Linked DNA regions of Homo sapiens: region 2 is linked to region 1. The links come from fine-mapping of genetic effects on gene expression. A gene starts in region 1. The other region holds a variant in brackets. All regions are shown on one strand. Distances are from middle to middle.

Region 1 (4,409 bases):
AAAAAAAAAAAAGGATATAATAAATACATTTTACTGAGGTCTCCATTTCCATACTACACTACATGGTGTACTATACTACAAATAGCATAGTAGGCCCCCAAATGCTATTTTATGTATCATAGTGTTTGTATTTTTTCCTATTAATGTTTGTCTTTTTGTATAAGACAAAAAATGAGAAATAATGATAAATAGTTGAGTTATCCATAGTTAATGAAAAAGTTTGATATATTTCCTTTCAAAATCATGTTAAAAGGAATCTTGGAAAGGGTTATTCTGCCATGACAGGCTGAAAGGGCCTCATTTCTGGAGAAGGCCCATATCATCATACTACGGGATATGATACAGACCTGTTAGAAACTCTTACTATCAACAGCCAGCTATCATAGGCTATAGCACAGTGAATGCCAATATGGATGCCTTTTCTCAATTAAATAACTTTGCTTTGTTAAGACTGCTTATGTTCTACCCCTTACTGAATCACTTTCTAGCAGTATGGCTTTGGGCATGGTACCTAATATGTGTGTGTCTCAGTTCTTCACCTGTAAAATTAGGGATTATGACAGCATATGTGTCATGGATTTGTTATAAGGACTGAATGAGAGAATATATATAACATGCTTATAGCAGTGCTTGGCTCAGATAATTTCTTGTCATATTATATATTTTGTTACATCTAAAACTGAATGTAATGATAGAGACTAGGCAAATAAATGACACCCTGCATATGTGAAAAAGGATATGTACTACAGCACTTATGTGATTAGAAAAAAAATCTGAAACCAGTCTAAATGCCCATCCATAGGGGATTGTTAAATATGTTATAGCCAGACTGTGGAATACTATATAACCATTAAAAATGAGCTGGGTTTATATGCATTGACATGAAAAGTTTTTCATAATATAGTCTCTTAAAATTTTTTTTAAATTAATTTATTATTATTAAGAGACATGGTCTCTCTCTCTCTGTTGCCCAGTCTGCAGTGTAGTGGCAAGATCATAGCTCACTATAAACTGGAATCTTTGGGCTCAAGTGATCCTCCTGCCTCAGCCTCCTAAGAAGGTAGGATTACAGGTACACAACACCATACCAGGCTAATTTTACTTTTTATTTTTGTATAGCTGGGGTCTCTCTATATTGCCCAGGCTGGTCTCAAACTCCTGGCCTCAAGTGATCCTCCTACCTCGGCTTCATAAAGAAATGGGATTATAGGGTGAGACCCTGTGCCTGGCCATTATGTATTCTTATGTGAAATAAGTACTTCGTAAGATAATACATATATCATCATGTAATAATAATAACCAATATTTATTGAGTACTTTCAGTGTACCTGAACTGTTCTAAGCACTTTATATATATTTCTGTCTTTATCTATCTACTAACTCAATCTTCCTAACAACCTTTGAGGTACAAACTATTATCATCCTCATTTTACAGATGAGAAAACTGAGATCCAGAAATTCAAGATCAATAACCAATAATTGAAAAGGAAGTAAGACAGCCTGCCTTTGGAATATTGTGCCACTTTACCAATAATTTACTCTAATTAAAATGAAACAAAAATGTGTGCATGTTATTGGATGTATGGAAAGATGCATCAAACTAAATGACCTCAAGGGAGAGGTGTGGCTTCCGTGAGGAAGATGACAAGACTCCTTCTTGGTACTCATGTAATAAGTTTGTGATAAAAGATATTATTACTAAACAAAGATTAACATGTATAACTTGTCTCCTTTAAACATAATCTCAGAATATTAGGCAAAAATATTAGAGAGTAGAAAGTCTCTCCTCTTCGTTAAGTTCTCTAAAACATTTTTACTCTTTAACAGGTTCAACTCTACCAACTGTCTATAGCATTTCACAGTGTTGTGGATGATTATGCTGTCTAGGGAACTGAGTAGTTACTGCACTTTCAAAAACATCATCTCACAGTCCTGAGGTCCTGCAAAGTTTGTGTCTTTCCATTCTTACATATAACTTACTTAACAGTTACTGCTATCAAGAAAGTCTTGCCTTCTCACACTTCTTCCATTATTTTTATGCCCTATTTCAGTGATCTATCCACACATCCATCTTCAAGCTTCCCAAAGGCAGGAATCACCTATTGTTCGTCTGTAAACTCCAATGAGAAACATACAGTCTGGTGTATGGGAGGTCATCAAAACAAGTGTGGAGGTATAAGCTAAGACTGACAACTGCCTCCCAAGTTTCTATTCAAAAGTAATCATTTTGGATGTAAATCTCATCAGGTATGTGAGAACACACCACTTAACATCATAGTTAATGTAATATTAATATTATAATCGCTACATTTACTGACTGCCCCTGCCCCAGTGACACCAGGATCTCTAGAAACCTTGTTATATTGTCTTAATGCTCACAACAGCTGTAGAGGTGATTATTTTTATCTGCTGTTTACAAATAAAATTAAGTCAAGACTCAGAGAGGTTAAATAACTTGCTCAACGCCACACAACTAGAATGTGGTATAAGGAGGATTCAAACATAAGGTACTCACATACAAAATCTGTACTGTAAAAAAATTAAATAGTACTTTTTCTGAAAATGGTTAAGAGTCTGGACATGTAAACATTTTAGATGTTTAGATTTTTAGAATATTTTCTTTAAAAGATGTGTAATGAGAATCTGATTAAAGAAAAAGGGAGGAACATGATATTCTACGTAAGAGAAAATTAGAATATGTTATACAGATCAGTATTCCTAAGTTGTGAGGATAAATTTCTTAATTAAAAGATTCTAGGAAGAGGGAAATAAAATGAGATGTCACTTTATGCTTAAACTCTCCATACCTTTAAAATTGTCACTGCTTCAAAAATCACCAATCAGAAGTCACATATGTACATTTTATTCCTGCTAACTAAAGTAAATTTTATAAGTAAGATTTTGAAATCAACAGAGACTGTGACATGAGGGTGATTTATTTGGGAATTCCAACAGCTGAATGAAGAAAGATGACGATTAATATGGTGTCAAACACAATCTGTGTGAGGTCTCAGGAATAAAAGCATGTGATTGACACTCAAACAATAAGTAATCTTGACCACAGGCTGCTTGACAACTGACACCTGAACACGCCTGCAGGCAGCACAGGAAGGGACTCCAGAGTAAACAGCAAAAGCGACTCCATTTCAAGTTGGAAGGAATGTGCTCCTTTATTGTGAGATCCTTCTTCCTCGGTTATCCTTGTGTTACTCTATATTAGCAGTCAACGCTATTGCATTGCTTCCTTGCGTTGTTGTACGTGGAAAAAAAAATCATTGTTCTGCAAGCCAGGGGTGCCACTCCCCCTCTCAGTCACTTACGAAATGCCCGACACTGGGGAAATCAACTTCTTTGGTTCTTGTATTTCTGGTCTGCAATATCCAATTTGATCTACGTGAAGTCAGATCTCTAAGCTTTCAGGTCCAAGCTATTCTTCTTGCCCTTCTGGGACGTTTGTGTTTTTCCTGTTGATATGATACTAGTTGGCAGCTATTTCTCTCATTCAACATTTATCCAATTGATTCATGCTTATTTCCTGCAGTCTTTATTGGAAGGATAGTAGGTGCTTCCTCTCAAGGAAAAATAGGAGTTAGAAAACCATTCTTGTCTTTAAGATGGTTTGTGTTTAAAGAGTAACCAAGAAGCTGTAAACATACGCATTATGATTTTTATATGACTTCTTATATCAGATAACATTTTGGCTTTAAAGAGAACAACTTGTTTAATCATTTGAACGTGTATTTTCATTTATAGAGAATAAAAACCTGTCTAATATATTTTTAAAATACAATTTAAAAATAAAGCAAGGCCACTTTCTAGAGTGAAAGGAGCACAGCCCTGAGTCAGGGTGATATGAGTGATGCTCATGGCAGAGCCTGTGAGTGATGGGGGTAAAAGGTAGCTCAGAGAGGAGCCTGGGTAATAGAACTGGACAGCTTAATAAATGGCTGACACAAGGAAATGCCAATTTAAGGCTACTGGTGTTCAGATACATGTAATGTCACTAAGGAGCTGTTCAGCATTTTCATTCTAATAGCTGAATATAAACTGCAGCAGCCAGAGCTTTCTAGGGCAATGACAATGCCTCACTGCAGGCTTTAGGTGGAAGGCTAACCACTGCTTTTCAGAGACGTACCTAGGAAAACTCAAGTAAGCTACAAAGCACATGTTTTGTTCTTAGATGTTTGATATTCTGTGAATATACTACATGTGGGTTTTTTTTTAATAAATAAGGCTTTATTCTTTGTGGTTAATTTTTTTGTATATTATAAAAACAGTAAGTAATAGGAAGAATATCAAGAAAGGTAGTCCTGGCCAACCCTCCTGCCTGCATACATTTAACCACCAATTTATTATCTGTTTTTTGAACACCTATTATGGATCAGGCACTGTGCTCCATACTGGGGATA
Region 2 (4,409 bases), 42 kb before region 1:
TAGCCTCTTCTACACAAGAGGAAAGGACTTAGGTCAGATCACACTCCATAGAAGTTTGAGTCAGGCTGTCTGATTATGGTCTAGTTCTCCTTCCACACAGCTCACAACAAGAATCACAGGCATGAGTTAGCAAATAATTTAAATCATGAGAACTATAATTTAGAACATTCTTATGAAGTTAAAAGTAAACTGCTCATGTCACAAAAATGATGACCTGAATCCCTAATAAAAATATATAGAAAAGAACCATCAACCAAACCAGTTATTTCATTCTTAGCTGTATAGTATAGTAGTTAGCATTCCCTCTTACCTGCTAGCCTGGCCAGCAGGAGAGGTGCTTTGCATTAAAAGTCCTTTGAGACAGTAGTTTCTATGGGCGGCTGTTATTACCTCATTGAGCAATTGATTTTGAAGTGCAGGGAAATGGACGGTGACTAAGTCAACCCATATGCCACTAGTCCTTAAGATTAATATTTTACCTTACAATTTTAATAAACCATGATTTTAAAAAATAATTAGGTTTTAGGAATAGATTTCCAATTAAGCTTTATAGGTGCTAAGAATAATTTTTTCCAATGTTATATTCTATCCATCAAATGTTACTGAGTATGCTATTTTGGAGGGAATTACTAATACTCACTTCCTATGAATAAGTTACTTGGAGTACAGCTCCCCAACTAATTCTGATTTGATTTTATTTGATGTTGTGGTAAACTAGAGCTTGATCATTTTTGGACACAGAATCAGCATTCCATTGCATTTTCTTAGTACCCATGGCTAGGTCTTCTTTCTGTCTACTTAGAATCTCTACCTGGAGGAACTGGAGCCTAAATGAAACTATCTTGACCATCTAGATCACCTACCTTCTTCAAAAGTGAAGAGTGCAATGCAATCATTCTAACATTTAGATGTCAACTTAAAAAGCACTTAATTTTCTTTCAGCCTGTATCACAGGACTTTTCGAGGTATTTGTTTATACTGAAATAAATATCTGTCAAATCTTAAAGAAACCGAGACACAATGAGTGATTTCATATGTCCCTATTGCTGTTTGAAGTTTCTTCATCAAAGGCAAGCAATACTTTAAATTCCATATTTAAAAGGAAAGTGTAAAATGCAAATACCATGGAAAAAGTAACACACTGTCAAATTTATTCTGCTACACACTGGGGTAAGTATATATCCTGCAAAATAATTGAGAGTGGCTTACATATAAAAGAGTATCAGTGTACAAAGTATAAAACAATGGGATGGAAAAATGACCTCAAGTATATTCCAGCCTCAAAGTTTCATATATCTAAATCAAATACATAGTAAAAAAGAGGCATAATTATTCCCTAAAGCAACTAAGAAAAAAATTTGTTTACTTTTCCAAAATTATTCTATGTCTTCTGATAAGTACATTATAATTTCATGTTTTAAGTGAAAACTGTGATTGGGGTTGCATTTCTGTAGCTTATTCATGCACACTGAACGATGTTATCAGTCGCTGTTTACCTGTAAACAAATGGGAGAGTTAAGATTCTATGTCGCAAAACAGCTAGCCAGGACAATAAAAGATCAAATGATCTGCAGTCTTCAATTATTTTAAAAAATTGTTTTCAAGAGAAAAACTACCAAACTATCTGATAGTTCTAAGAACTTAATTTAACTTTAATAACCATTTTGCATCTAAAGTGTTTTTTATTGTGAACCCAAACAACTTTAAATTTTATTTACAAAATAGGTGTCACACACAAAGGTAGAGTGGAATCATTTATTTAATTCATCTCTATTTTGCTTTTCCTGCTATTTATCTGTGTTTATATTTTAGAAACTATTAAAATGATTTTAGAGTTAAATATCATTAGAGAAATTCCAAATTTGTTTTTCTTGGCAAGTAAAATTCTTAAC[T/A]TTTATGAGTGATGATCTGACTCTTGTAACGACTTTGTTCCTCCGTAAGCTTCATGTCTGGTGTCCTCATGAGTACTTGGTATGTTCCCTGGCACAGAGTAGGTGTTCATGGAATATTTCTTTAATGAATGAATGTACAAATAAATGAGATGGCAAAATCAGATATAGTTTTAATAATAGCTGAAGCTAGATGTAGTCTAGCTGCATAAAAGTTAATCACACTTCATTGCTGTTAACAGATAACTATCCTGTTAACTAATAAGGTAAATAATCGAAATTGGGAGGTTGGAGAAGGCAGAAAACCCTTACAGAGTGTGTTGATTTTCATTTACAAAGAAAAATGCAGGGACTTGGCAATATTTTATGGTGGTAGCTTTAGCTACTAAGAACACATTTAAAAAATCAATTCTCTATCATGTTGTTCCTAGCAAAAGCAATTGCCAGTTGATAAAATGTGTTTGCACAGTGATTACCTTGAGCTGAGATGCCAAATTTGGGAAAGGACTAGAGGAGGGCAAGTAATGTCTGCTAGGCGCTTGGCCTGGGCTCTGTGGGATTGTTGAGGACAAACAGACCTGGGTCAGCACTGGCTTGCTGCAGGGGCTGTTTCCTGGGGTGGTCAATAAAACCACGAAGCCTCTGAAGCACATGGAGTCTGTGCTGATGGTTTGCTTTTTATTTTTCTCCATTTTCCCATCCTTAATGCTGAAATGCAAAAGTTTGGAAGGCTCTCATGACATTCCAAAATAGAGTATAAAGTAGAATTTACCAAGCATTTACTTTGCTTTCCTTCAGGTGCCATCTCATGAAATATGCTTGCATTCAACACTGATCTGCCTGTATTCAGATGAAGCTGTAGACCACTGTTGTTAGGACATGGATTTGCACCGTTTTACCAACAGTGGGTGTGGATGTTATCTGGCACGTATTTTCATGAATGCTGTCAGGCAGCATACTTGTACCAAGGACAAAGGAAAAAGTTCACCTGGCTTTCTTGCAATTGCATCCATGACCATATCCATTTCTCACATTCACTCACATTCAATTTAATGCCCAGATAAGCATTATGATGTGTTTAACAGCATAGGTGTACAAGCTACACGAACCTGGGCTAGTTATTTGAATTCTCTTTGCTTCAAAACTTGTACTTATCTCAAAGGGTTGTTGTGAGGCTAGAATGAGTGGAAATATACAAAGTATTTAGAGGAATGGCAGGCATGTAGTAAACAATCAATAAATGTAAGCTATTACAACTATCATTGTGCTTACTGTTATTGTTAGTACTATTATTAGATATTTTGTTCTCTTCACTATAAGCCAAAACTAATGGAGGAAAATTAGGGCAATATCTCAGAGGGTTGAATTTCTTCTACTTTAATTTTTATTTTCTTCTCCCTCACCTATGTGTAAATAATATGTGCGTGTATGTTGAGGTGAGGGTGTAGGAGACTATCAACAGCAAGGGGAAAAGTAGAAACTTAACCTCAGTGAAGAAGGTAGAAGAAAATGGGACCGCCATCTATGATGGTTAATTTTAGGTGTCAGCTTTACTAGACTAAGGGATACCCAGATAGTGGGTAAAGCATTATTTCTGGGTGTGTCCATGAGAGTGTTTCCAGAAAAGACTGGCATTTGAATCCGTGGACTGAGTAAGGAAGACCCATCCTCACTCAATGTAAGTGGGCACCACCAAATTGGCTGAGGCCTAGATAGACAAAAAAGGAAAAGAAAAGGACAAAAATAGTACTTATCTCAAAGAGTGGTTGTGAATTATCTCTCTCTCTTTCTCGGAGCTGGGACACTCTTCTTTTCCTGCCCTTGGATATCAGAACTCCCAGTTCTCTGGTGTTTAGACTTGGGGACTTAACCTGGGTTCTCAGGCCTTTGGCCTCTTGGAGTGGGCCACACCACTGGCTTCCCTGGTTCTCCATCTTGCAGATGGCCTGCCATGGAACTGTTCAGTCTCTACGATCTCGTGAGCTAATTCTCATAAGGAATCCCTTCTCATCTATCTATTCTATTGGTTCTGTCTCTGGGGAGAACCCTGACTAACACAACATCTCTAAGTTTCACTTCAAGAGAGTAAGCAACATGTTTTATTAAATTGTATTACCATTTAATTTACAATAAGGATTTTAGAATTTTATAACAAGATCCTAAAATCTCAATGATTTACTCTGAATCTGGTCATCACTATGATATTGATCATGATGGTTATGCTATTAATGTTTAACAATGCAAAAGCAGAAGTCTTTCAGAAGGAACTCATACAAGTTAGCCATCTTCCTTAAGAAAGTAGCACAGACTATTAAGAACTGAATTATGTTGTAATTCTTATATTGCACTCTCTTCTAGTATTATGGAACATAAGCTTTTCTAGCAGGAAAAACTTAACTGAAAACCTACAATTGCTGATTTTCACCTAATGGAGTAGGACTGTTGTCAGTTCCAATAGAGAAGCAGAGTAATGACTTTTCTAGCTGGCAGTCATAGGAAGAAAAAAAATACTGAGCACAA

Which allele goes with the higher level. Positions count from the first base shown, and alleles are read on the strand shown. Sizes are in standard deviations (SD) of each study's normalised expression.
For the expression in skeletal muscle of the gene that starts at base 2,067 in region 1, allele A in region 2 goes with a lower level than allele T (moderate effect, 0.73 SD a copy in FUSION).

The links. PIP is the estimated chance that this variant, and not a neighbour inherited with it, causes the effect.
Region 2: its variant is fine-mapped to the expression of FREM2-AS1 in skeletal muscle (FUSION, PIP 0.95).

The regions. Positions count from the first base shown.
Region 1 is chr13:38,825,249-38,829,657 of GRCh38, reverse strand. It overlaps FREM2-AS1 (FREM2 antisense RNA 1), which reads left to right and starts at 2,067. Exons shown (of 2, transcript NR_146963.1): 1 at 2,067-2,247. The region is part of intron 6 of FREM2 (FRAS1 related extracellular matrix 2); the gene reads right to left.
Region 2 is chr13:38,867,037-38,871,445 of GRCh38, reverse strand. The region is part of intron 16 of FREM2 (FRAS1 related extracellular matrix 2); the gene reads right to left. Among named protein-coding and RNA genes, the nearest start is that of FREM2-AS1, 42 kb to the right of the region's middle. The variant T/A (reference allele first, on the strand shown) is at 1,893.